Linked DNA regions of Homo sapiens. The protein of the gene in region 1 interacts with the protein of each later gene in a biochemical or structural test. Each region holds a gene or a part of one and is shown in the gene's direction. Other genes may lie near its edges.

What was found.
Region 2: the proteins of VDR (region 1) and NCOA4 form a complex in vitro, tested with the Homo sapiens proteins (one study listed by BioGRID).
Region 3: the proteins of VDR (region 1) and FOXO3 form a complex in vitro, tested with the Homo sapiens proteins (one study listed by BioGRID).
Region 4: the proteins of VDR (region 1) and KDM5A form a complex in vitro, tested with the Homo sapiens proteins (one study listed by BioGRID).

What each region holds. Positions count from the first base shown.
Region 1 is NC_000012.12:47,852,982-47,860,006, reverse strand, and holds part of VDR (vitamin D3 receptor), read left to right. Parts: intron 1-2,318; coding exon 2,319-2,503; intron 2,504-2,757; coding exon 2,758-2,878; intron 2,879-4,205; coding exon 4,206-4,377; intron 4,378-7,025.
Region 2 is NC_000010.11:46,027,617-46,035,295, reverse strand, and holds the start of NCOA4 (nuclear receptor coactivator 4), read left to right. Parts: upstream 1-4,672; 5' UTR 4,673-4,770; intron 4,771-7,679. Other genes in the region: MSMB (beta-microseminoprotein isoform a precursor), read left to right, coding at 1,745-1,874. UniProt on the Homo sapiens protein: Cargo receptor for the autophagic turnover of the iron-binding ferritin complex, playing a central role in iron homeostasis. Acts as an adapter for delivery of ferritin to lysosomes and autophagic degradation of ferritin, a process named ferritinophagy.
Region 3 is NC_000006.12:108,675,907-108,682,931, forward strand, and holds part of FOXO3 (forkhead box protein O3), read left to right. Parts: intron 1-3,920; coding exon of another isoform or gene 3,921-4,007; 3' UTR 4,008-7,025. UniProt on the Homo sapiens protein: Transcriptional activator that recognizes and binds to the DNA sequence 5'-[AG]TAAA[TC]A-3' and regulates different processes, such as apoptosis and autophagy.
Region 4 is NC_000012.12:302,311-309,335, reverse strand, and holds part of KDM5A (lysine-specific demethylase 5A), read left to right. Parts: intron 1-1,330; coding exon 1,331-1,882; intron 1,883-2,246; coding exon 2,247-2,390; intron 2,391-7,025. UniProt on the Homo sapiens protein: Histone demethylase that specifically demethylates 'Lys-4' of histone H3, thereby playing a central role in histone code. Does not demethylate histone H3 'Lys-9', H3 'Lys-27', H3 'Lys-36', H3 'Lys-79' or H4 'Lys-20'.

The sequences.
Region 1 (7,025 bases):
TGGATAATAGAGCGAGAGTCTGTGAAAGAAAGAAAGAAAGAAAGAAAGAAAGAAAGAAAGAAAGAAAGAAAGAAAGAAAGAAAAAGAAAGAAGGAAGGAAGGAAGGAAGGAAGGAAGGAAGGAAGGAAGGAAGGAAGGAAAGAAGGAAGGAAGGAAGGAAGGAAGGGAAAGGAAGGGAGAGAAAAGAAAGAATTGTAAGACATGGACCCTGCCCTTAAGTAACTTGTAATCTAGAGAAAGAGACCTTGAACTTCTTGGGCTCCGTCTATAGGTAATGAATTGAAAACTGTGCTAACCATGAGTCTTACAGAGCAGAAGATAATTGGGTGTCAATGTGTGTGGGAAAGACTAAATATGTAGCAGGCATAGGAAATGAGGCTCAGCAGAAAAAAACAAGGCTTGATGCAGATCAGGGCAATCAAGAAATGCTTCATGGAAAAAGATGGCTATGATGTAGGCACTGAAGAACTGGTAGAACTCATACAGGTTTGGGGGAGAGAAAACCCAGCTGGACGGGCACCTAGCACAACTGGAAATGCAGGGGCGAGCATGAGCAGGTCATGTTCCCAGGCCAGCAGCAATGCCAGCATGCCCAGAACAGAGGCTGTGTCCAGAAGCACTAAGACATGAAGTCTGAAAGTTAGGAAGAGGCCAACTTTAGTTTGGACGTGGTCATCAGTAGGGGCCGAGAAAAGTATCTGGGCAGGAGAATGGCATCACAGAATCACTGGAAAGTTAGCAAAGTCCAGTCAGGCTGAGCTACGTGCCTGTAGACACCATGGTGTGGCTGGCAGAAACAGGTCTCCCTAACTCTGGTCCCCAGGTGAGCAGGAAAGACAAGACACCTAATCTTGGGCTCCCCAAGCGAGGGCTTACCCCCATTGCCTTCCCTGGATGCTCCCTGCCCCTTCCTCTCCCACCCTGCCTGACCTGGTAGGGTCTGTGCAGACACCCACTGTGGGAGGAGAGTTGGCAGCTGTTTGGGCAGGTGAGTCAGTCACCTGGGTGTGGTCTACTCCCAGGCTCCCTGTGGAGGGAAGCACCATCTCTTGCAGTAGCGCTCGCTTTCCTGCCATGCCTGTGGCATTGGCTGTCCACTCCCTCCCAGCATAGGCTCTTCCTCACCCCACAGCAACTTCTCTCGTCCTCCCCCTACCTGAGGGCCTGGGCCAATGGACCTTTCTCAAAGCCTGGAACTCACCCACCCTGGGCTTCTGGTTCCTTTCTCTGCTCTTGTGAAACTCCCCAGTTCTGTGGGCAGATGCCCTGGCAGCAGCAGCACCAAGCAAGTAGCTACAGGCCAAAGGCCCTGGTGCCCACTCCTGCCGTCAGCACTCAGCAAGCCACAGCCAGGAGGTCTGTTTGCCCAGCCGCCGTGCCAGGCACCTTTGCTCCCAGCATCCCCTCCACCCCCACAGCTGCCCCAGCACAGGGAGGCAGGCAGAAGCCTGCAGGTGGTGGTGGGGCTCTCTATGGCCCCACACCCTGATTAGTGGCTGGAGAGAACTTCTAAGATTAGAGCTGCAAGGCCTCACCCTTTGGGGCCTTCAAGAGGACTTGAAAACTTCCATGGACAGAAATGTCAAGGCTGTACATGCTGGAGGAGGGGTGGTTTTGCAGAGAACCAAAGAGGTCTAGTCTTTCTATATTCCACAGTCCCATGTCTGGAAACCTGGATGTGGAGACAGCCACATAGAGGAGTCCTCTCCACATCTCACTTCCAGCGCTATGAGAGCTCTGGCATCCTCTCTTCACCCTGATATCTTCTTCAGGATCATGGAACATCAGGGTAGGGAAGAGAAGAGAACTAACATTTAGTGAGCATCTGCTCTGGGCCAGGCATGCATCCAGTTCTCAAATCAGTTGATCCTTTGAGGCAGGTATTATTACTTCCCCCACCTGCATGTCAACACACACAGACACACACACACACACTTTATGGAGGAAGGTACAAGAAAGGAACCTTGGAAGAACTTACATGGTCCAAATCTCTCATTTTACAAACAAAAGAACAAAAGCCCAGAGAGTTTGCCCAAGGTCCCACAACTTGTTCTTGAGAACCCCGACTCCCTAAAGCCCAGATCATCCCCCCTCTCAAATCCTCTTTTTCTTCTTCTTGCATGTGCCTTCCTTTTCACCATAGCAAACCCAATTTTTCTTCACACAGTGGAGTGGGAGTCTCCGTGGCAGGAGGACCCCCGAGGGAGCCCCGAGTGTTAAAGCCCCTCCTATCTTGGACCTTTACCCCCAACCGCAGGAGGAAGGTTTCCTGGAGGAGCTGCTGGCCAGCCCTCCTGACTCCCCTTCCCACCCCACAGTCATTCTGACAGATGAGGAAGTGCAGAGGAAGCGGGAGATGATCCTGAAGCGGAAGGAGGAGGAGGCCTTGAAGGACAGTCTGCGGCCCAAGCTGTCTGAGGAGCAGCAGCGCATCATTGCCATACTGCTGGACGCCCACCATAAGACCTACGACCCCACCTACTCCGACTTCTGCCAGTTCCGGGTATGTCTGCCTGCTGGGAGGATGAGCCGGTCCAGAGGAGAAGCACTAGTGGAGCCAGGGCCCAGGGAGTAGGGACAGAGGGCAGGGGACATCCTGAACAGAACTGGGGTAGGGACGGAGGCTGCTCTGCCCCTGGCACTGGGAGGCTTCGCCTTCCTGTAGACCTTCCTCAAAGCCATTCCTATCAGAGATCAGGGCCAAGGTAGGAAGGCAACCCCAAAATGTGGGTCTGAGACCCCATCTTTCCCTTCCAGCCTCCAGTTCGTGTGAATGATGGTGGAGGGAGCCATCCTTCCAGGCCCAACTCCAGACACACTCCCAGCTTCTCTGGGGACTCCTCCTCCTCCTGCTCAGATCACTGTATCACCTCTTCAGGTAAGCAGGACTTCAGTCCTCCATAGAGTAAGGGAGCGGGGGCGAGGAGTCCACCGCACCTGCCCTGGGGCTGCTGGATGGAAGGAGGTGGAAGGCTCCCTAATGGAAACTTACATAAATACTGTGCGCTATGCAGCGTCTTCACAACAGCCCCTCTGTTACAGAAAGGGGTGACTTACCCAAGGGCCCACACTGGGGAAGAGGCCAAGCTGGGATTCCAGCTGTGTAGCATCAGCCTCCCGGGCCCATGCTGTTTCCTCTAAGCCAGGCTTCAGCCCATGGCCCCCTCCGTGGAGGTGACCTGCTTCCTTTACGTGATATTTTAATCCTGGGCCCTTCAGAAGGTGAAATTTGGAGTGGGAAGGTGAACGTGTTGGTCCTATTGAGGTCCACCTTCCACTTGAGCTCTGGGGACCACTCTGGCCCTGGAGGACCTGTCCCCTCCAGCTCAGCTGAGAGTCTGGGAGGCATCATGCTTTCCTTCCTTTCTTTTTTTTTTTTTTTTTAAAAAAAACACATATGTATATTTAGAAAAGAAATTGTGCTGTATACAATCTGATGACTTGCTTTTTTTTATATGGCATTGTTTTTCCATACCAGTTAGTACGCATCCAGAATATAATTTTTAAGGGCTGCATAGTATTCTGGAATACAATAATGTACCTAATCCCCTACCATTGGATATCTGGATTATTTCTCAGCATTTTAATAAGAAAACAGTATACTTGTAGCCAAATATTTACACTTATCGGAAATTTTCCCTTACAATGAATTCCAGGAAGTGTGACTACTGGTCAAAGAGTACACACAATTATTTGACTAATGTCAAATAGCTTTCTAGAGTACCTTCAGTAATGTGCACCTCCTTTAGCACCCCAGCCCTCATAGGCATTGCCTAATTTCCTGCATCTTTATAAATACTGGCATCAATATTTAAACATTTTTGTTTCTGGTTTGTAGGTGAAAATTATAGATGTTCTACACTGCAGTTCTTTGACCATTAGCAAGGTTGAACATTTTTTTCCATGACTTGATGGGTCCCAAATTCTTTCTTGATTGAGATCCATAGGAACAGCACACAGTCTGCTTGAGGAAGTCTCATTGCTCTGAGTGTCTCTGGCTCTTTGATTTTACTGCCTTATGCTGCTGAAAGAGGCAGAGAGAGTCCCAGAGGGAAGCCTGGGGCTGAAGGGTGACCTGTGGAGTCACTGTGGGATTCCCAGCTGGCTCTGCTGCCAGGGCACACCAGGTTTTTGCAGGGTCTGGCAGGAGGGGGCCTGGTCCAAGTATCCTTAAATAGCTCCTTCTCTTCCCTCATCTCTCCCAGACATGATGGACTCGTCCAGCTTCTCCAATCTGGATCTGAGTGAAGAAGATTCAGATGACCCTTCTGTGACCCTAGAGCTGTCCCAGCTCTCCATGCTGCCCCACCTGGCTGACCTGGTCAGTTACAGCATCCAAAAGGTCATTGGCTTTGCTAAGATGATACCAGGATTCAGGTAAGAAACTTCTGCAATCTCTGGGGAACAGAGTCAGAGTCCTAGACTGAGCTACAAGAAGGGTTGGAGATCACTCATCCACCACTTCTTTTTTTTATTTTTTATTTTTTTAAACGGCATCTTGCTCTGTCACGCAGGCTGGAGTGCAGTGGCGCGATCTCGGCTCACTGCAACCTCCGCCTCCTAGGTTCAAGCGATTCTCCTGCCTCAACCTCCCAAGTAGCTGGGATTACAGGCACCAGACACCACGCCCGGCTAATTTATTTATTTATTTATTTATTTATTTATTTTTATTTTTTTTCCAGACAGATTCTCGCTCTGATGCCCAGGCTGGAGTGCAGTGGCACTATCTTGGCTCACTATAACCTCCGCCTCCCGGGTTCAAGTGATTCTCCTGCCTCAGCCTCCTAAGTAGCTGGGATTACAGGTGTGGGCCACCAAGCCCGGCTAATTTTTATAATTTTAGTAGAGACGGGGTTTCACCACGTTGGCCAGGCTGCTCTCGATCACCTGACCTCGTGATCCAACCACCTTGGTCTCCCAAAGTGCTGGGATTACAGGCATGAGCCATCGCGCCCTGCCCTAATTTTTTTATTTTTAGTAGAGACGGAGTTTCGCCATGTTGGCCAGGCTTGTCTCAAACTCCTGACCTCAAGTGATCCACCCACCTCAGCCTCCCAAAGTGCTGGGATTACGGGCATGAGCCACAGCAGCCAGCCTCCATTGCTTCTTTAAAATAGAGATTCAGACCCTACCCTAGACCTGCGAAATCAGAATCTCTGGCGTAGGCCCAGAAATCTGTATTTAGAAAGTGCAGCCTGTCTTGCGTTACTCTGCAGGCCAGCACTGGAGAGCTAGTCCATCCCCGCACTTTCTGGATGATGGTGTGGAAGCCCAGAGAGGTCCAATGGCCAGCCAGGATCCCTTCCAGGTGTTGGAGCCAGCATGTCAGAGCCAGGCCTAGAACTCCCAGCTCACTGCTGTGTTCACTCCAGCTGGCTTGACTGGAATCCTCATATTATCTCTTTAAATTCAACGATATGATTCCTCCACACCCCAACTCTGAGAGCAGAATGAAGTGATAGAGAGAAGGGCTTGGCCATGTAGACTTGTGAAACAGTCTAGGAATCCTGGAGAGAGATAGGTTTACTGGCATATATGACCCTGGCATCCTTCACCAAAATGTACATTTAAAGACCATTTCCTGGCTGGGCACAGTGGCACATGCCTATCCCAACACTTTGAGAGACTGAGGTAGGAGGATTGCTTCAGCCCAGGAGTTCCAGACCAGCCTGATCAACATAGTGAGACCTCTTCTCTACAAAAAAAAAAAATTATAAATTAGCCAGGTGTGGTTGCACATGCCTGTAGTCCCACCTACTAGGGAGGCTGAGGCAGGAGAATCACTTGAGCCCAGGAGGTCAAGGCTACAGTGATCCATGATTTCACCACTGCACTCCAGCCTGGGCAACAGAGCAAGACCCTGTCTCAAAAAAGAAAAAAATAAAGACCATTTCCTAACCATACTGATACATTTTTGCCAAAATATATAAGTATAAGGAGTTCTACTGGAGAAGGGATCCTCCTTTATCAATTCATTCATATAAATTTCATTCATTTATTCCTATGTTTCATTGTTTTAACACTAGTACTGTATATAATACTTATATTTAAATACTCATGCAGTGTTAATTTTTTTTTTCTTTTTTGAGACGGTTTCGCTCTTTTCACCTAGGCTGGAGTGCAATGGCGCGATCTCAGCTCACTGCAACCTCCGCCTTCCAGGTTCAAGCAATTCTCCTGCTTCAGCCTCCCAAGTAGCTGGAACTACAGGAGCGTGCCACCATGCCTGGCTAATTTTTTGTATTTTTTTTGAGACAGAGTTTCCCTCTTGTTGCCCAGGCCGGAGTACAATGACGCGATCTCAACTTACTGCAACCTCTGCCTCCTGGGTTCAAGCAATTCTCCTGCCTCAGCCTCCTGAGTAGCAGAAATTACAGGCACGCACCACCACGCCTGGCTAGTTTTGTATTTTTAGTAGTAGAGTTGGGGTTTCACCATCTTGGCCAGGCTGGTCTTGAACTACTGACCTCAGGTGATCTGCCAGCCTCAGCTTCCCAAAGTGCTGGGATTACAGGCATGAACCACCACGCCCGGCCAATATTCTTTTTTTTTTTTTTTTTAATTGAGGCAGAGTCTCGCTCTGTCGCCTAGGCTGGAGTGCAGTGGCATGATCTCGGCTCACTGCAAGCTCCGCCTCCCGGGTTCACGCCACTCTCCTGCCTCAGTCTCCCGAGTAGCTGGGATGACAGGCGCCCGCCACTACGCCCGGCTAATTTTTTTGTATTTTTAGTAGAGACAGGGTTTCACCGTGTTAGCCAGGATGGTCTTGATCTCCTGACCTCGTGATCCGCCTGTCTCGGCCTCCCAAAGTGCTGGGATTACAGGCATGAGCCACTGCCGGCCAATATTCTTAAAACAATAGAGTATTGACACATTTAATAGATGTGTTGGGAAATGGCTATATTTATGTATATTTGTATCTTCATTCTTCCCCAAAGTTCATTTGGTATATTGCCATAAAATACATAAACAATATGGTTGAGAAAGAGAAGTAAATCAATCTCAAGCAATGTTATTGTCTTTCA
Region 2 (7,679 bases), on another chromosome or scaffold:
TTCTTTTGGGATATATACCCAGGAGTAGCTTTCTGGGTCATATGGTAATTTTTTGTTTAACTTATTGAGGAGCTGCCAAGCTGTTTTCCACAGCAGCTGCACCATTTTACATTCCTACCAGCCAGCAATCACCTTTAAACATGAAAAACATGAAAGGTTTTAAATGATATTTCCCAATTTTCTAAGTAAACATATGAATTATAGAATCATTGGGAAGCATAAGAGAAAAAAGAAGAAATACCTACTCATAATCCCAACTGTGTAAAGGTAATAACTATTAACATTCTATTTTTATTTATTTATTTATTTGTATTAAAAAAATTAAGACAGGGTCTCACTATGTTGCCCAAGCTGGTCTCAAACTCCTGGGATCAAGCTGTTGTCTCACCTCAGCCCCAAGTAGCTGGGATTACAGGCATGTGCCACCATGCCTGGGCTTCTATCATCATTTATTTTCTTTTTTTTTTTTTTGAGATGGAATCTTGCTCTGTCGCCCAGGATGGAGTGCAGTGGTGTGATCTCTGCTCACTGCAAGCTCCGCCTCCTGGGTTCACGCCATTCTCCTGTCTCAGCCTCCTGAGTAGCTGGGACTACAGGCGCCTGCAACCACGCCCGGCTAATTTTTTGTATTTTTAGTGGAGACGGGGTTTCACCGGTTTAGCCAGGATGGTCTCGATCTCCTGACCTCGTGATCCGCCCGCCTCGGCCTCCCAAGGTGCTGGGATTACAGGCGTGAGACACAGCGCCCGGCCCTATCATCATTTCTTTATGTCTCTTTTCTATATGTTTTTTCTTTTACATAGTGGATATCAAATTTTATATCACAGTTTTGTGGGCTGATTTTTCCACTTAATATTCTAGCACTGGGCTGGGCATGGTGTCTCACGCCTGTAATCCCAGCACTTTGGGAGGACAAGGTGGGTGGATCATTTGAGGTCAGGAGTTCGAGACCTGCCTGGCCAACATGGTGAGACCTCCCCCGCGCCGACCCGCCATCTCTACTAAAAATATAAAAATTAGCTGGGTGTAGTGGTGTGCTCCTGTAATCCCAGCTACTCAAGAGGCTGAGGCAGGAGAATCGCTTAAACCTGGGAGACGGAGGCTGAAGTGAGCTGAGATCGTGCCACTGCACTCCATCCTGGGTGACAGAGTGAAATTCATCTCAAAAAATTAAAGTAATAATAGTAATAATACATAAATATTCTAGCATTAGTATCATCTCATCTCATCAGAACTCTTCAAAATATTTGTATGTACTGCAGCTCAATTAGAGGTGGTCTCTGACTTTCATCAGCTTCTCCCTGGGCTCCATGACACTGGCCTGGAGTGACTCATTGCTCTGGTTGGTTGAGAGAGCTCCTTTGCCAACAGGCCTCCAAGTCAGGGCTGGGATTTGTTTCCTTTCCACATTCTAGCAACAATATGCTGGCCACTTCCTGAACAGGGAGGGTGGGAGGAGCCAGCATGGAACAAGCTGCCACTTTCTAGAGTAGCCAGACTTGCCCCTGGGCCTGTCAGCACCTACTGATGACCTTCTGTGCCTGCAGGATGGAATGTAGGGGTGAGCTGTGTGACTCTATGGTACAGACTGGTCCAGGTTCCTGGAGGTCACACTCTGGGGCTGCCAGCCAAAGGGTGCCCTTAAGTTGGAGTGTGGGTGACTTCCTGAACAGAGCTGGCACTGGGGAGGGGGTGCTCGGGGTCCTTTCTCTTCTAACAGGCCCCAGTTTTGTCTCAATGACAGTGTTTCTACACCTGTGGGTTATGACAAAGACAACTGCCAAAGAATCTTCAAGAAGGAGGACTGCAAGTATATCGTGGTGGAGAAGAAGGACCCAAAAAAGACCTGTTCTGTCAGTGAATGGATAATCTAATGTGCTTCTAGTAGGCACAGGGCTCCCAGGCCAGGCCTCATTCTCCTCTGGCCTCTAATAGTCAATGATTGTGTAGCCATGCCTATCAGTAAAAAGATTTTTGAGCAAACACTTGAATATGTGTGTCCTTTTAATTTATAATTTATGTATGCATTGATTTAATACACATTATAAAGAATACAAAACATTTAAAAAGGGAGACAAAACTACATATGAATGGCCGGGCACAGTGGCTCATGCCTATAATCCCAGCACTTTGGGAGGCCAAGGCAGGCGGATCATTTGAGGTCAGGGGATCGAGAACAGCCTGGCCAACATAGTGAAACCCCGTCTCCACTGAAATACAAAATTAGCGTGGTGGCAGGCACCTGTAGTCCCAGCTACTCGGGAGGCTGAGGCAGGAGAATCACTTGAACCCGGGAGGCGGAGGTTGCAGTGAGCCAAGATCACATCAGTGCACTCCAGCCTGGGTGACAGAGTGAGACTCCGTCTCAAAAAACAAGCAAACAAACAAACAAACCCAAACCCAAACAAAACAAAACAAAACAAAATACATATGAATAAAAGTTCTATTTTTCCTAAACTCTATAATAGGTCATTGTGCATCCCTTACTCAGGGGACCACTGCCACTCTTACTGTTTCTGATGTCTGCACTCTGCTGCCCGTGTCCTGCTGTCTGGTGAACGATGAAAAAAATGTGTGTCTTCAAGCTGGAATTAGATCCCTTCTTTTCTTTACGGTGTTCCTGTTTATCCCTCCTTCCTCTTCATCAGGAAGTGTCTTCTATGATGTGTCCCCCACATTCCTCTGTGTTTGCTTGAGGTCAAAGCAGCTTAGAACAAGAAACAGCTTAGAACAAGCCTGTAAAACAGCTTAGAACAAGCCTGAAGAAAGTGCCCCCAAGACCACATGCAGCCCGAGGGGAATTAAAGGCCAGGGGCTCTGCCTTGCAGATGGAGAGTGGCCTGGGTGCAAGGCCCCAGCATCAGCTACCTCTTGCTACACACAGACCACCGAAAACTTAGTGGCTTAAGACAACGACAACATTGATTCTCTTTTAACTGTTTCTGTGTTAAAGAACATCTGTTCACTCAACAGGTCTGTACTGAGCACCTGGGCCAGGCAGTGCTCTAGACCTGGGGATACAGCAGTGAACCAGAGAGATTTCAGGAGAGAACCCTGTTCTCCTGGGGCTTGGACTCAGCTGTGTGTACGTGACAGATCAGAAATGAGCAAACAGTCATCTGTTGAACAATCAGTGGGCAACTGATAAAGAGCTTTATTTTCCCCTGTCCCCTATCTGTTTAAACATGCTATGTGGGCCAGTTGAGCAATCTAGACAGGTCCCTTAGCTTTCTTGTTCACCTTCAGATAATTTAAAAAAGTGGTCTGAGTTACATTTTGAGTTACACAAAGTCTCATTCCAGGGGCTGCATCTGAATTGAGAGGGAATGGGGGACAGGAGAGTTAAGGGCTCCTTCTGCCTGAGGTCATGTTCTAGGCTGACTTCCTCATGGGACTTTTGTGGGCTTCTCTCTCCACAGCTCCCCTTCCACTCACAGCCTATGACTGTTATCTTAGCTTCTGCATCGTAATCTATGTCTCCTATTGTTTTCTAATGAGGTTGCCTTGCCCCTTGTAGCAGAGTCACTCTTGGATGAGATCCATAAAACCCTGCTATGATCACCTCCTTTGCTGCGGAATGTGGGGAAGCAGTTGGCAACTGAGTATGGAGGACCTCTGTCAAAACTGAGACAGAAAGAAGTGCTATTTAACATCTAGTCACAAGTAAATAATGTGGGTTATAATCTGGGCTGTAGGCTGGACGTGGTGGCTCATGCTTGTAATCCTAGATCAGGTGGGAGGATCGCTTGTGCCCAGGACTTTGAGACCAGTCTGGGTAACACAGCAAGACCCTGTCTCTACAAAAAAATTTAAAAACCGGGCATCATGGCGCATGTCTGTAATCCCAGCTACTCAGCAGGTTGAGGCAGGAGAATCGCTTGAACACAGGAGGCAGAGGTTACAGCAAGCCGAGATTGCGCCACTGCGCCTGAGCGACAGAGTCAGACCCTGTCTCAAAGAAAAAAGAAAAGAAAAAAAGAATCTGGGTTCTGCCATTTATTTATTTACTCAATTTTTTTTTTTTTTTTTTTTGAGACGGAGTCTTGCTCTGTCGCCCGGGCTGGAGTGCAGTGGAGCGATCTCGGCTCACTGCAACCTCTGCCTCCCAGGTTCAGGCAGTTCTGCCTCAGCCTCCCGAATAGCTGAGGCTATACGCGCGAGCCACCACGCCTGGCTAATTTTTTTGTATTTTTAGTAGAGAAGGAGTTTCACCGTGTTAGCCAGGATGCTCTCCATCTTCCGACCTCGTGATTCGCCCGCCTCGGCCCCCAACGTGCTGGGATTACAGGCGTGAGCCACTGCTCCCGGCCTATTAACTCAATCCTTAGAAAAACAAATGTGGCAAAGGTGGAATCATACAACATATGGCCTTTTGTGTCTTACGATATTCATTTTTGCATCTGAATGTTCAAACTAAATAATATCTACCTTGTGAGGCCATCTGAATCACTTAGGATGGTCCTTGGCACCAAATTTGCCTTCAAAAAAGCATTTGCTTCATTTAATTTCGATTTATTCACGAAGGACTAAAGGACACTGCAAGGGCGGGGAGGGAGTGTGCGCCTGCGCTCTGCGCCTCCTAGAGGGCAGTCAAGGGCTTCTGGCTGACCCGAGCGGAGATCTCGCGAGACTGTCAGACGTATGGCGAGAGGTGTGGGAGGAAGATTGTGTTGTCGCGAGAACTCTGCCTTTGGGCCGTAGGTTAGTGTGGGGCCGTGTCTCAGTCCACCCAAGGTCTCCTCGGATCGCCTGGAGAGGCACTCGGACCTGGTAAGAACGCTGTGGGCCGGGTGGAGGCTCGATGACCGCTGGCCCGCTGGGCCCGGGCTTGTCCGCCCCTTCCCGACCCGACCGACACCGGGACCGGTCTGCCTTCTCCTTCCCTTCCCTCCCCTCCACACGCCAGGCCCGGGCACCTCTTCCTGCCTGCCCGCCGGGCCCGGGCCTGTCTTCTCCCCTTCCGGCCACACGCCGGGCCCGGGCCTACGTTCTCGCCTTCCCGCCACACGCCGGGCCCGGGCTTGTCTTTTCCTCCCCGACCCTCCTCGTGCCCGGCCGTGGGCCTGTCCTTTCCTCCCCGACCCTCCTCACACCCGGCTCGGACACCTCCTGCTCCCCGCCGGCCTTCCCCTCTCTTTAGGTGTGACAGCTCCAAGTTTCCTGTTTCTCTCGCCTCTTGCTTGGATGTGGGGCGAGGCGAGGTCTGTTTTGCCGGACGGGCACAGAACATAATCCATTTCTAGCTTGTCAGGTGGAAATGCAAAGAAGATATTGGGTTTTTTTGGCCCTCTGTGTGCCAAACACATACTGTCACATTTAATTCTCCCAATAATCCCGAAAAGTAGCTTGATTATCTCTGTTTTACAGCTGAGAAGAGTAAGGCTTGCTCATTCATTGGTTCATTCCACCAGCAATCATTTATTTGGTGCCTGTATGTTCAGGATGTTGAGGATAGCAATGAAAAAAATGGACACCTAATTCTCATGGAACTAAATTCTTGTTGTGGGGAAAACAATAATCATAATCTTACGTGGCACGGGATTTAACATGGAATGATGCCATCAAGAATGGCAGAAGTAGAATGACAGAAGTCAGAGTGCTGAATTTATCTGACCCCAAAGGCAGAGCTTTTTTACTTTTAACTGTGCCTTTTTGTGTCACTTTCTAATCAGGGTCGGGTTCACCACAGTAATTGCCTTTTGGATGGACTTAGCTTTCCACCACGCACTTGGTAATTTGGAACTAAGTTTATAGAGACTCTTGAGTTACTTATTGGAATGAGGATGGCACAGGAAGTCATAGTTGGCCCATTTTTATACCGAGATCCTAGTGTGACATTTCCAAACTTTAAAGTACTTGAGACCGTTTGAGAAAGACTTACCCTAAGGATGCAGTGGCTTAGGCAATTTACTTGGTTTTCTCATTTGAAGATTTGCTAGCTTGCAGATTTGTTCAGATAAGTAAATGAGATTATGTATGTAAAGTCCAGCACAATAACGTTCCTTTCATTTTCTCCTTTCCTGCCTTCCAGGGAGCCTTTGTCCTTGGGTCTCTAAGGAAAATCCTACTCTTTGAAAGTTTTGTGGTAGTTTTTATCTAAATAAATCTCTACAATTACATTATTACCTTTGTGCAAACAGGCATTTCGGAAATGGAAAAACATGTTGAGCTATGGAAGGGGAGGAAGATGTCCTTCTCAAAGGGAGAGAAGATATTTTAGAACTACATAGTACCCCTCACCCCCCCCTTTTTTTTTTTTTTATTAAATCAGTATAGCTGTGCCAGAATCTCAGGATCCGGTGTAGGGGTTTCATAAAACTCCATAGGATATCCTGACACATATCCCTCCCCCGGTTGAGAGTCCCTAAGTTAGTGTTTTATAATACTTTCCCTCACATAGTGTTAGCATTCAGAGCCAGTCATTGCTGCTGCTGATGGACTTTGAACTCAGTCTCTTATTTCAAAGAATTAGTATTTTCTGCTTGGTTGGTGAATCTATGACACGAGTTCTCCTCTAGGTGGCAAGCTCACCATTGTGTTCTCAGGGACTATCACAGTAGTGTCAGTTTAGGTACTCAATAAATAGTTGTTGGATGAATACATAATACCTTAATACTTAATGATTCCTTCAACATACCAGGTGTGGTTAGGGACTTTGGACTCAGATCTGGGATTAAATCTTGGCTCTTCTACTTGGGAGTTTGTGACTGTAGGTAATATATTTAACCTTGTCAAGTCTGCTTTTTTTTTTTTTTTAATTAATGGTGATGATAATAGCCACTTTAATGAGGGCTAATTGAGATAGTGAGTTTTTTAAAAAAAGGCTCGGCACATAGTAGACTAGATGTAAATACTTACTGAATTCATTTACTCAGTAATTAATTGTTGAACACCTACTATACAACAGTGAACAAAAAGACAAAGTCCCCGCCATGTGGAACTTACCTTCTAGTATGTTTTCTGAAGGGAGATCAGAAAATAAATGGTTGCTACGTGCCAGACTGTGGTTAGTACTATGGAGAGTAATAAAGCATATTAAGGGGGATTGGAGGCAAGACTTTTAAAAATAAAAGATGGTGAGGAATGGCCTCAATGAGAAGATGACCTCTGAGCAGACACCTGAAGGAAGTGAAGGCCTGGGCTCGAGGATACCTGGAGGAAAGCGCAAGGGCCCTGAGGCAGAAGCATCCTTGTTAAGCTAAAGGAGCAGCAGGAGGAGAAGAGTAAGGGTAGAGGGGAAGAGTAGGTAGCAGTCATGAGGTTTCTGCAAGAGTCCTGGAGAGAGATGATGGTAATGAAATTGATGAACTTTATGTCTTTCTTTGTTATATCCTGTTCTTTGACTAAAAGTAATAAAAATAGGTAATACTTCTATAGCTCTTAATGTGCATCAGGCACTATTTTAAGTGCTTTACATATATTAGTCATCAGATCTTTCCAAGAAAGTATACCTAGCCTCAGAAAATGAAGATTTGTCACTCTTTAGGATATACAGTGGAATGTGCTGCTGGTTCAGAGAGCACTTTCTCAAGCAGTACTGAAATCAGCAGTGAATTCACTGCCTCTGTTCACATACTGGTTAGGTTGCAAAGGCAAGCCTAAAGTGTCGATAACAGACCACCCAACCAGTATGTATGCATTGGGTTAAGTTCAGTTTCATGGAAGAACTGTAGAAGGCC
Region 3 (7,025 bases), on another chromosome or scaffold:
GTTTTATTCCCAGATTAAAGTTGATTGGGGTTGTTATGTTTTGTGTAGTTTTTGGAGGCATTTCCCTTTCTTAGAGTATCATGTGATTTATGGTGATAATTAGGCAGAAACTTGTCTTCCCTACAGATGCCAAGATTATAGAGGGACTTGCTCTCACCAGAGACCAGATGACAGCATCCGTAGATATTTTTAGAATGGACCTCATCATTTATTTGGTCTCCCCATTTCATTTTCTTTGTATCAGCAATTGATTTCAAACTTGTTTATTGGGCAGGGAGGGGAGAGAGGGCGTCTTCCCTTATTAATGAAAGTCACTGATGGGACAGAACAGCATCTTTGTATTTATTGTTAATTGGCATATTGCCTAGTACTTGCAGAGTAAACTACAATTCCATCAGCTGTAGCTTCATTTTCTTTTCAAAAGTTTTGCTTAATCTGATGTGTTTTCTTACAGCATTTTAAAATTTTATTTATTTATTTTGAGACCGGGTTATGAGACTAGTTTTTGTATTTTTGGTAGGGACGGGGTTTTGCCATGTTGCCCAGGGTGGTCTCCAACTCCTGGTCTCAAGGGACCGCCCCCCTCAGCCTCCCAAAGTGCTGAGACTACAGGCATGAGCCGCCATGCCTGGCCCCTTAATCCGATGTGTTTTTAAACTAGAAGAGCATCGACACATACACATAAATCTCACGGTTAACTAAATAACCGTATAACTAAAATGTCATACTTTAAACTATTTAAGAATGACATGAGCTTTCTTAAAACCCATGAAACTTGTACCCAAGCTAAGTATCATTGACTTTCCCAGCTCAGTAGCTGGGTTTCATCACTTAATATGCTCCCTCTACTCTTTCTGTCCTTGATTGAATCAGATAAGCATGTACAAACATTGAGCCACAGGAGAGCCATTAAAAATCTAAGACAGATGAGCTGCTGCTTTCCTTTTGATTATTTTTATTACCCCAGTTTTCATTGTAAATGGTGATTCTGGTGTTCCTCTGAGAAGGTTAATTGTATTTCTGTTCAACATTTATCTTCTATATTTTCAGTGTTTTACAATCTGTTTTCCTTCTGTCACAGAGGAAACCAAAGGCCTTTCTGTTCTCTGGAGTGGGAGTTTCTGTATTAAATTTGTCCTCTGCAAGAGTTGCCTCTATACCTGGGCCAAATCCTCTACCAATTCAGCCTATAAGCACCAAGGTGGTTTCCTGAGCAGGCCTCCCTGGGAGGGCATTGCCTGGGGGACCTCAGCGGAAGCTGTAGAACATAGCTTCACAGGTGACCCCAACCCCAATCTGCAGAAAGGGAAAGTGGTGATTCACACATCTCGTTTTTAATAATGGAGTTCTCTGAAGATTGGGGCCTTTTGATGAAGGAATGGATATTAAGCCTGGGGACTGTGGTTGGTTAGTGCTTTAGACTGTCCCACATGGGCCTCCTACTCCTGGCTTTGGGGTGATGGCCTGTTCTGCTCAAAATTGTGCTCTGTTAGGGGCTCATGGGTGTCCTCTGTCCTCTTTCCTGCTGTGTTGGCCCAGCCCACATTGGAGCAAGCCACACTCCCTGTCTCTGTACTTGGGGAATGAAGTGTGTCACCTTCCCATTATGCACTGGCTTCTGTGGCTGCATAATTAATACCCAAGGGAACTGGAGAGAGATCTGAATTAGGTAGTACTTTACAGCTTCTCCCTCGGCGCTTACAGTAAGTCAGGATGGGGACTTGGGGATGGGAGTCCCCTGATGACTGATCACATAGTGATGTTGGATGGTGGTTTATTAAGTGTTATTGTGAGGGGAAAAAACCAAATCCTCTTCCAGAGGACTGTGCCTGTGAAACGCTATCTAATCATTCATACTTTGCAGGGCAAGGTAGAGTAGTTAGAATAGCACTGACTTTAGCAAGCTACGGTCTTCACAGATGCTGAGATCTAGTATTTACTTCAGCTTTTACTCCCTCTAGAATCAACAAGCCATTATTTTATAGTCCAAGGTAATATTATCTAGTAGCTTTACAAAGCAAAGAATGCCCCAAAAAACCATCAGCCAGGGAAACTAAAACCTAGGGATAGACAGGAAGAAGAAAGAGGCTTCTTTTTATACTTTATTGTCCCTACCTCCAGTAAAACAACCTAAATTCTTCAATTTGGAGCTTTAACAAGGATAAGTAAATATGACCATGGGCATGTAACATTGTAAATACTAAGTCCTGCTGTGTTTGCAAACATTGAGAGTGAAAGGTAAGATTGCCAGCAAGTGCAGAGTCACAGAAGAGATTGAAGTTACAGTACACTCATGAGAATTCCTGATGACCCTACGGTACAACCTCTAAAGGTGGGAGAAGCAGATGTATATAATGTGATTTTGTGTGTGAGTTTTTTGATGCTTTTTTCATTACTTATTTACCTTGTCTGGAGAGAAAAGCACGAGTTCATGTTGTTTCACTACCACTTTTCTATCCATTTCTTGGCCTAGAGCCGTTTCTTTACTACCATAACTGCCAACACTATCTCCATAAACAAAGAATCTTATGTCTGGAGGTCTGTCATGTCACGTCCTTTTGCTATTAAGACAGCTCTATGAATATACTTTTTTTTTTTTTTTTAATCCCTTAACTTTTCTGGGCCCAGTGGTCACATGACATCTGATAAGACTTGTATAAATTCAGATGCTCTAAGAGCACCTTTTTTGTGCCTTTCCATTGAAGACAAAATAATAATTGGAGGCAGAATAATAATAATGTTGTTGATTGTTAATGGGGTGTTTTATGGGGGATTTCTTGTCCATATATGTGTTATGTAATTTTTTTTCTCCAAATTTGTAATACAAAAATCAAATTCCTAAGCCAGGTGCATTGGCGTGCCTGTAGTCCTAGCTACTCAGGAGGCTGAGACGGAAGGATCTCTTGAGCCCAGGAGTTCAAGTCCAGCCTGGGCAACATAGCAAGACCCCATTTCTTAAATTCTTTTTTTTTTTTTTTTTTTTTTGAGACGGAGTCTCGCTGTCGCTCAGGCTGGAGTGCAGTGGTGCGATCTTGGCTCACTGCAAGCTCTGCCTCTCAGGTTCACGCCATTCTCCTGCCTCAGCCTCCCGAGTAGCTGGGACTACAGGTGCCCGCCACCGCGCCCGGCTAATTTTTTGTATTTTTAGTAGAGACGGGGTTTCACCATGTTAGCCAGGATGGTCTCGATCTCCTGACCTCGTGATCTGCCCTCCTCAGCCTTCGAAAGTGCTGGGATTACAGGCGTGAGCCACTGCGCCCGGCCCATTTCTTAAATTCTTAAGATGGCCCGCTTAGTAATTACTTACTCTTTTTATGGTGGGGAATAGGGGAGTCAAGATTACCCACACCCAGCACTGCAGACTTATTAAGGCCTTTATAGAAAGTGGCCATTTCATCTCCACTGGTGTTGGGGTATTCGTGGAAAAGGGTGGTAAGCAATTCAGTTAGTCCACATAGCCAGTAGGGAAGAACCAGAAAAGTATAACTCATCTACTTAGGATGAGCGGCTCTCCTTGTTTTAGCATGGAAAGTCCCATGTCCTAGGAAATCCCTCAGTCCGGAAGTCTAGAACAGAATCTTATCTGCACCTTGAACATCTAACTAAAAAGGACCCACCAAAACACCCCTAATATGGCTTTCTTTATCTCCCAAAGTGAATGATCCCATTCCCTTTGGGCTTTTCAACTTCAGAGCATTTTGTAATAAGGACAACATGAGAAATAAGGTAAGTAATCTTTGTGCTTTGTCCTTAGGATTTCAGACCTTTGAAACTGGTGTAGCAGAGCAGCTTTGCTGTGCTAGCCCTGGGCTCTGAGGTGGGTGAGGGAGATGGAAGGCCTTGACAGGTGGCCCTCAGGTGCCCACTATTGCTGTTGCAGTGCCCTTAATGATCTCTGGTTTTCTTTTCTCCTCCTTTAGACCCTCAAACTGACACAAGACCTACAGAGAAAACCCTTTGCCAAATCTGCTCTCAGCAAGTGGACAGTGATACCGTTTACAGCTTAACACCTTTGTGAATCCCACGCCATTTTCCTAACCCAGCAGAGACTGTTAATGGCCCCTTACCCTGGGTGAAGCACTTACCCTTGGAACAGAACTCTAAAAAGTATGCAAAATCTTCCTTGTACAGGGTGGTGAGCCGCCTGCCAGTGGAGGACAGCACCCCTCAGCACCACCCACCCTCATTCAGAGCACACCGTGAGCCCCCGTCGGCCATTCTGTGGTGTTTTAATATTGCGATGGTTTATGGGACGTTTTAAGTGTTGTTCTTGTGTTTGTTTTCCTTTGACTTTCTGAGTTTTTCACATGCATTAACTTGCGGTATTTTTCTGTTAAAATGTTAACCGTCCTTCCCCTAGCAAATTTAAAAACAGAAAGAAAATGTTGTACCAGTTACCATTCCGGGTTCGAGCATCACAAGCTTTTGAGCGCATGGAACTCCATAAACTAACAAATTACATAAACTAAAGGGGGATTTTCTTTCTTCTTTTGTTTGGTAGAAAATTATCCTTTTCTAAAAACTGAACAATGGCACAATTGTTTGCTATGTGCACCCGTCCAGGACAGAACCGTGCATAGGCAAAAGGAGTGGAGCACAGCGTCCGGCCCAGTGTGTTTCCGGTTCTGAGTCAGGGTGATCTGTGGACGGGACCCCAGCACCAAGTCTACGGGTGCCAGATCAGTAGGGCCTGTGATTTCCTGTCAGTGTCCTCAGCTAATGTGAACAGTGTTGGTCTGCTGGTTAGAAACTAGAATATTGATATTTTCAGGAAAGAAATCAGCTCAGCTCTCCACTCATTGCCAAATGTCACTAAAGGGTTTAGTTTTAAGGAGAAAGAAAAGGAAAAAAAAAAAAAACAAAAAAGTCCTGTTTTGCTTTGCAGAACAAATGAACTTACAGGTGAGCATTAAGCTTGCAGTGAGAAATGTGCGAAGAGTAAAAACCCAAGTCAATGCTGAGGCAGTTCTAACTTCACTGTTTTCCTAAATACACATCCTTGATTATTTTCAGCCTTGCTATATAATCTGATCTGCTAGAAGTGTATGAGTGAGAGGCAATAGCATACAAACTGATTTTTTAAATATAAGCTTAGGTTGTAATTGTACAAGTGACTCAATGGAAGTACAAAATAGGGCAGTTTTAACTTTTTTTTCTGCTTCTATGGATTTCATTTTGTTGTGTTTTCAAAAAGTTATGGTGCTGTATAGGTGCTTTCTGTTTAACCTGGAAAGTGTGATTATATTCGTTACCTTCTTTGGTAGACGGAATAGTTGGGACCACCTTTGGTACATAAGAAATTGGTATAACGATGCTCTGATTAGCACAGTATATGCATACTTCTCCAAAGTGATATATGAAGACTCTTTTCTTTGCATAAAAAGCATTAGGCATATAAATGTATAAATATATTTTATCATGTACAGTACAAAAATGGAACCTTATGCATGGGCCTTAGGAATACAGGCTAGTATTTCAGCACAGACTTCCCTGCTTGAGTTCTTGCTGATGCTTGCACCGTGACAGTGGGCACCAACACAGACGTGCCACCCAACCCCCTGCACACACCACCGGCCACCAGGGGCCCCCTTGTGCGCCTTGGCTTTATAACTCCTCTGGGGGTGATATTGGTGGTGATCACAGCTCCTAGCATAATGAGAGTTCCATTTGGTATTGTCACACGTCTCCTGCCTCGCTTGGGTTGCCATGTTTGAGCGATGGCCCTGTTGATTTCACCCTGCCTTTTACTGAATCTGTAAATTGTTGTGCAATTGTGGTTATAGTAGACTGTAGCACATTGCCTTTTCTAAACTGCTACATGTTTATAATCTTCATTTTTAAAGTATGTGTAATTTTTTTAAGTATGTATTCTATTCATATGGTCTGCTTGTCAGTGAGCCAGACTTGCTTACTATATTCCTTTATAATAATGCTAGCCACTTCCTGGATTCTTTAGTAATGTGCTGTATGCAAGAACTTTCCAGTAGCAGTGAAGGAGGGTTGCCTCTCCAAGCTTCCTAAGGGATGCTGCCCTGTGTGGGGATGCATTGCAGAGGCACTAGTAGCATGGGGGCTAGAGTGGGGAGCGAGATGTAAAAGGGTGGGGGGATAGGAGAATTCCAGAGTGCTTCCAGCATTAGGGTCCTGAGAACTTCTGAGTTCAGAGAAACATGCAAAGTGACTAACAAAATAGCTACTTACCTTTGCAGTTTTACAGACCCTGGGAGCTGCTTTGGGAGTGAGAAAGGCAACCCTCCAATGTGTTTCAACTTTAAAATGTTGAATTCTTTTCAGACATGGTATCTCATTTATTCTCCTTTTCTAGCGTTTGTTGAATTTCAGGCAGAATGTCTTACAGAATGTCCTAGAACCAGATTATCATTTAATCTGAAACAGCTGAGGAAGGGACAGAGAAGGTACAAGGGCAAGGCAGCACAAAACAGATCAGGAGAATGAAGAGGGAATGCTTTGGTTTTTTGTTTTGTTTTGTTTTTTCTTTTTCAAGTAACTAAAACAGCATCTACATGTAGAGTGTTGTGGAGAGCTGAGACCAGGGTAAAGTCAAGTGCAGCATCAGTACTGCGAGACCCACCAGCCCCTGGAGAGGGTCAGCCGAGAATCTGGTAGTGAAGCCTGTCTAGGGTCCCGGCACCCTCACCCTCAGCCACCTGCAGAGAGGCCAGGGCCCCAGAGACTAGCCTGGTTCTGAAGTGGGCAGGGGTGCTGCCAGAGCCCTCTGCCCCTTATGTTGAGACCCTGCTTTCAGGACAGGCCAGCCGTTGGCCACCATGTCACATTCTGAGTGAGTGTCACAGGTCCCTAACAATAATTTTCTGATCTGGAGCATATCAGCAGAATGCTTAGCCTCAAGGGGCCTGGCAGCTGTAATGTTTGATTTATGATGAGAACTATCCGAGGCCACCCTTGGCCTCTAAATAAGCTGCTCTAGGGAGCCGCCTACTTTTTGATGAGAAATTAGAAGAGTACCTAATGTTGAAAACATGACATGCGCTCTTGGGATCTGC
Region 4 (7,025 bases), about 48 Mb from region 1:
CACTGAGAAAATTCGAGCTAAACCTACATTTAAGAAAGAGTAATAAAAACGAAATAATTATCCAGTTTTTGGTAAATTAGTGAGTGACAGTGGCATTGGCCAGGAATTGATTTTTTTCTCATCAGTGTTATAATGAAACTACACTGAACGTAAAGATGTTATTTGAGGACCTGCTGTAGTTTTCTAATTTTGAGCATTTTGCCTGTTACTAAGTTTCTTATTGTAAGTAATAAAATGAACTTCTTTTATAACCTTTTCCTTCTTTTAAATTTCCTAGACTTGACTCTTAGGAATGTAATTACTGGGTTAGAATTTAATATAAGCATTTTATGACTCTTATTACTATTGTGTTTTTCAAAGGAATTATACCAGGCTACAGATTTCCATCTCTTAATGAGTGTTAAAATATTTGTAGTTGATGAGAATTATGCTTTTTTGGAGGATAGGAGGAATGTGTTAAGATTACTAGGAGCCTGAGGAAATGGAAAATAAATACGAATCTGGACAATAAAAGTAGGGAATTGCATGTGATATAGCTCTTTCTGCCTACAAATGATTCTGTTTTGAAGCCAGTGAAAATATTCTCTGATTAGAGAGCCTGCCTAACAAGTCAATCTTGCTAGACAAGTAGGACTGGAAATTATTTCAAAATTGTTTCAAAGCTGCCAGTAGTTTAACAAGAAAATGCACTGACAGTATTGATAATTAAATTTGTTTGCCTTTATTTACTTTGTTAAAATGAGTTTCATAAAACTCTGTTGTTACAACTGATCGTCAAGTTTTGTTATTCTACTTATACATGAAGAGGCTTTCCAGAGAGAAGTAAATTAATTTGTGTAGGACTTGCCCCAGGGAATGAATTACGAGGTGATAGGAAACTAATACTTTAAGAGTGTTTACCTTGTGCAAGGTACCAGGTTAGGCACTTTCATATGTTATCTTATTTAATCCGTAAAACAGCAAAATACGGTTGGTAGTATTCTCATTTTTCAGAAAACGGACGTTCTGAAACTTGTACCCCATATTAACAGTCTAAAAGTACAAGAGCCAGGCTTTGTACCCAGGTTGCTTGATTTCAAGGCATGCCATCTTTGTACCGCACCCTACAGAAGAGGCCAAAGTACTGTACTGATGTACATGATCAAATATGATAGCACTTTGCCCATTTCACACTTGAGGAATGTTTGCATGGAAACCGCCAGGGGCCCCACATTTTAGGAAACTGTTTATAACTGATAACTTGGGAGAAAGATCCCACAGCCTTGAGGATTTGGTATTTTGGGGGGTATATTGCAGTGACTCTTTTCAATTAAATGTTTGTCTTGTACAGGTGGCAGTTTTCAAAGAACGGGAGCAAAAAGAGATTGAAGCCATGCATTCTCTCAGAGCAGCCAACCTAGCCAAGATGACAATGGTGGACCGCATAGAAGAAGTAAAATTTTGCATTTGCCGCAAGACAGCCAGTGGGTTTATGCTACAGTGTGAGCTCTGCAAAGACTGGTTCCATAACAGCTGTGTTCCTCTTCCTAAATCAAGTTCCCAAAAAAAAGGATCCAGCTGGCAAGCTAAAGAAGTAAAATTCCTTTGCCCTCTTTGTATGCGGTCTCGAAGGCCCAGGCTAGAGACTATTCTGTCACTCCTGGTATCCCTTCAGAAGTTGCCCGTACGGTTGCCTGAAGGAGAGGCCCTGCAGTGTTTGACAGAACGTGCTATGAGTTGGCAAGATAGAGCGCGGCAGGCTCTAGCCACAGATGAACTATCCTCTGCCCTGGCCAAACTATCTGTGTTGAGCCAGCGTATGGTGGAACAGGCGGCTCGAGAAAAAACTGAAAAGATCATCAGTGCAGAACTCCAAAAAGCAGCTGCCAATCCAGACTTACAGGCAAGTTTAGGATTTACATTCTTTTTCTATTTCATGGGATATGTCAGTGTATAAATAGTAAATTGAGTCTGTCTTACCAATTGATTAGGAAAATAACAGTAACTTGTCAGCAATTATCCATTGCATTCTCCTTCAACATACACTATAGCACTTTTTTTGGATACGTACTTAGTGAAATATTCTTGGTAATATCATTCAGGTGGACTTTGGCATCATAATCAAATAATTTGATTTCTACTAACTGTTGAAGAACTCTGTTAGCCACTTTGCTTATTCATTACATTTTGGTGATCTTAAGCACACATTAATTACCCTGTCTGTTTAGCATGTCTTGCTGTTCATCTTGGAATTATTTGTTGTTTAGGGACACTTACCTAGTTTCCAGCAGTCTGCTTTTAACCGGGTGGTGAGCAGTGTGTCATCTTCTCCTCGACAAACAATGGACTATGATGATGAAGAAACAGACTCTGATGAAGACATTCGAGAGACATATGGCTACGACATGAAGGTAGTTACATGGACAAGCTGTGTGGGTACATACCTGATCATTGGGTTTGTTTAAAAAAAAAAAAAGCTATTGAACAGTGATGTTTGAGGCCTGAAAGTGAAAGAGAAAACTAATCATTTATCTGTTCTGAGTTTTTAGTCGTAGCATTTTTTCAAAACTCAAAACATTACAGGTTGCTGAAACAATTTTTTTTTTTTTTTTTGGAGATGGAGTCTCGCTCTGTCACCCAGGCTGGAATGCAATGGCGCGATCTCTGTTCAGTGCAACCTCTGCCTTCTGGGTTCAAGCAATTCTTGTGCCTCAGCCTCCCAAGTTGCTGGAATTACAGGTGCATGCCACTCTGCCTGGCTAATTTTTGTGTTTTTAGTAGAGATGGGGTTTCGTCATGTTGGCCAGGCTGGTCTTGAACTCCTGACCTGAAGTGACCTGCCTGCCTCGGCCTCCCAAAGTGCTGGGATAACAGGCCTGAGCCACCACGCCAGGCCTGAAACAATTTTTAAAAAATAGAATTAAAAAATCTGTATTTGTTTTACTCATCTTATAATCCCTTATGGCTTAGAGGAACTAGAAAAACAATATGTAAAGCTTTCTTGGCCAATTTCAGTTTTTCAGATTTTTTTCTTTGAGTTGTGAAAGTCTGTATACAGTTAAGTTTTAAGAATTCCATTCTAGGCTTGGTGTGGTGGCTCATGCCTGTAAACCTAACAATTTAGGGGAGACTGAGGTGGAAGGATCACTTGAGCCCAGGAGTTTGAGACCAGCCTGTGCAACATATTGAGACCCCCATCTCTACAAAAAATACAAAAATTAGTTGGGTGTGGTAGCACACACCTGTAGTCCCAGCTACTTGGGAGGCTGAAGTGGGAGGATTGCTTTGAGCCTAGGAGGTCGAGGCTGCAGTGAGCCATGATTGCACCACTGCCCTCCAGCCTGGGCAGCACAAGACCTTGTCTCAAAAAAAAAAAAAAAAAAAAAACACTTCCATTGCTAGAGTCTTTTGCTCTGCTTTCTCGTCTGGATGGTGCTAGATAGAATGTCACATTCGGAGATGGGTAATATAATACTTGGGCCCAGGTTAGAATTTGCTGAGTTCCAGTTGCAGATACAACAAATTATTTACCATCAATGTGATTATTTTGGTAATGACACGTTACTGGTGGTGAAGAGAAGGTTTTGACAAGTTTGTTTTGTGTTGGATCCAGTTGGCTTTTCGTTAGCCCTTTTTGTCAGGTGCAAGCCCTTTGCTTTTTAACCTAGTAATAACAATGTGATTAGGCAGAGACCCTGCCAGATTACAGTCAATCCATTGACTTGTTTTATATGATTCTTAGTTGCTTTGTTTAGAATCTATTCTTGTAACCTGGGAATTCCTACTCTGATACAAAAGGCTGCTTCCAGAGAACAAGGGGAGATTCTGTTCCTACCCCTTCACTATCTTTTATTTGTCTTTTCAGCTTGCAGATCAGCATGGTACTGCTCATTAATCTCATCAGCATTAAAACTCCTAGGATATAAAATTAAAACCATCCATCATAGACGCTCGTAGATTCCTCTGCTGGGAAATATTTTTTCTCAAGATAGAAATGGGAATTTTCAGTTATGTGACTTAAAGACTTGAAAACAGTTGAAACTTGAATTAGACTGTTCAAATAATCTTTTTTTATATTAAAATATCTTATTATATGGTAGATTATTATTTTTCAGTTTTGAAAGTTTTGTGAACAGATGGCCAAGTTTTGTTGCACTGATTTTCAAGGGCTGATTGAGGGCCATTATTAAGAAAAGAGGCATTACAGTTGCGTACAGTTCTTGAATATCATCTTAGTGTACTGCTAAATCCCATTATGAAGAATTCATTGGCAGTCTGCTGAAAGGTACACTAGCTTATACCACACACAGCGGTACATTCTTAAGCACGTTGTTATCCAGAAGTTAATGACTATCTTTGTTTACGAAGTTGTATATAGGGTGACTAAGAGCAGCTGAAAAGAAATGCAACCCATGCCAAGTATAATTAGCTTTTTCCTTGAATACTGGAATCACCCGTTTACCCTAGTTAGAGGCCTTTGATATTTTTGGTGGTTGCTTTCTAGCACATTAGCTATCAGCCACTCTTCTAGAATTGCTTAACATGATGGGCTTTGCTTGAAAGCAGACTGGTAACCTATGAAAACATCACAAGTATTGATGATTTTCAGGACTAGGGATCACAACTGCAGTTTCATATGGTTGGATGGAGTAGTCTTTTTGTGGAGGAATTTATATGAGAATCTTAGCTTACTGTCTCTTTGGTAGTGGGTATTGGCAGGGTAGAAAAATAAGATTATGGATTTTCTAGTGTTAGCAATGTATTTGACAGCTGAGAAGAATGGTGGCAAGACTTATGGTAATTCAAGTTCAAATTTACTTTGCAGTCAGATGCTCTACCACTGAGCTATATACCCCTGCCAATTTACTTTGATGTTGATATCTTTGAATGAAAAAAAAAAAAAAAAAAAAGCCTATACTCTTGAGCATTTTCCCACAGAGCAAGCGATAATTGTATAATGAAAATTTTATTTGCCGGTTTATTTGCATTTGACCTGGTGGTTTTTTCCTTTGTGTGATGTCCTCTGTTGTGACCATAAATTCATAACTTAAAATACTTTGAACTTAGTATTCTTGCTTGAGGAAGAGCCCCCTCTTGGTTTAGGAGGAGGGGTAGGTAATTATTTAGTAAAATAAAATCAGTCATTTTATCTTAGTTACCATCCAGAAAATCATTACTTACGAGGTACATATTTAATGAAGCAAAGTCTGTCCTGCATCTTTTGGGATTGTGTCTATGTAGGTGAGCTTGTGGAAACTAATTTCAAGGAGAATCATAGACCTAATCAGAGCTCACTTAACATTGCAAGGACTTTAAGTGTAACAATGAGATTAATGGGCAGTACCAAGCTGATCTGCAAGCTGAACTTATTTTTCCCCCTCATCACTGTTATAATGAAATGAAAACAACTTTATTCAAAGACCTGCTACTATACTTCCTTTTGCTTAAAGGCAGTTTCTAAGAACCTACCAATGACATTACATGAAGACTTACTGTAATCTATATATTGTCAGTCAGACATATACTTGTATTAAGAGCAATTGGTAAGATTCTAGGTTTGAAAACCTGTAGAGAGGATTAAATGGTTTGTGTCCTTAGGCTGTCACATCTAAATTTATCTTCCCCTCCTTAACTTGTTGGTATAGGAGTTATTATAGGTTGTAGACTATAGAAGGTAGATTACTTAACCATAATTTTTTTTGTATTATACTTTAAGTTCTGGGGTACATGTGCAGAACGTACAGGTTTGCTACATAGGTATACACGTGCCATGGTGGTTTGCTGCACCCATCAACCACATTAGGTATTTCTCCTAATGCTATGCCTCCCCTAGGCCTGCACCCCTGGACAGGCCCTGCTGTGTGATGTTCCCCTCCCTGTGTCCATATGTTCTCGTTGTTCAACTCCCACTTATGAGTGAGAACATGCAGTGTTTGGTTTCCTGTTCTTGTGTTAGTTTGCTGAGAATGATGGTTTCCAGCTTCATCCATGTCTCTGCAAAGGACACGAACTCATCTTTTTTTATGGCTACGTAGTATTCCATGGTATATATGTGCTGCATTTTCTTCATCTATTCTATCATTGGTGGGCATTTGGGCTGGTTCCAAGTCTTTGCTGTTGTGAACAGCACTGCAGTAAACATATGTGTGCATGTGTCTATAGTAGAATGATTTATAATCCTTTGGGTATATACCCAGTAATGGGATTGCTGGGTCAAATGGTAATTCTAGTTCTAGATTCTTGAGGAATTGCCAGAGTCTTCCACAATGGTTGAACTAATTGACACTCCCACCAACAGTGTAAAAGCATTCGTGTTTCTCCACATCCTCTGTAGCATCTGTTGTTTCCTGACTTTTTAATGATTGCCATTTTAGCTGGTGTGAGATGGTATCTCATTGTGGTTTTGATTTGCAATTCTCTAGCGACAGTGATGATGAGCATTTTTTCATATGTTTGTTGGCTGCATAAATGTCTTCTTTTGAGAAGTGTCTGTTCATATTCTTCGCCTACTTTTTGATGGGGTGGTTTTTTTCTTGTAAATTTGTTTAAGTTCTTTGTAGATTCTGGATATTAGCCCTTTGTCAGATGGATAGATGGCAAAAATTTTCTCCCATTCCGTAGGTTGCCTGTTCACTCTGCTGATAGTTTCTTTTGCTGTGCAGAAGCTCTTTAGTTTAATTAGATCCCATTTGTCTATTTTGCCTTTTTTGCCATTGCTTTTGTTGTTGTAGTCATGAAGTCTTTGCCCATGCCCATGTCCTGAATGGTGTTGCCTAGGTTTTCTTCTAGGGTTTTTGTGGTTTTAGGTCTTACCTTTAAGTCTTTAATCCATCTTGAGTTAATTTTTGTGTGAGGTGTAAGGAAGGGATCCAGTTTCAGCTTTCTGCATATGGCTAAGCCAGTTTTCCCAACACCATTTATTAAATAGGGAGTCCTTTCCCCATTTCTTTTTGTCAGGTTTGTCAAAGATCAGATGGTTGTAGATGTATGGTGTTATTTCTGAGGCCTCTGTTCTGTTCTATTGGTCTGTATATCTGTTTTGGTAC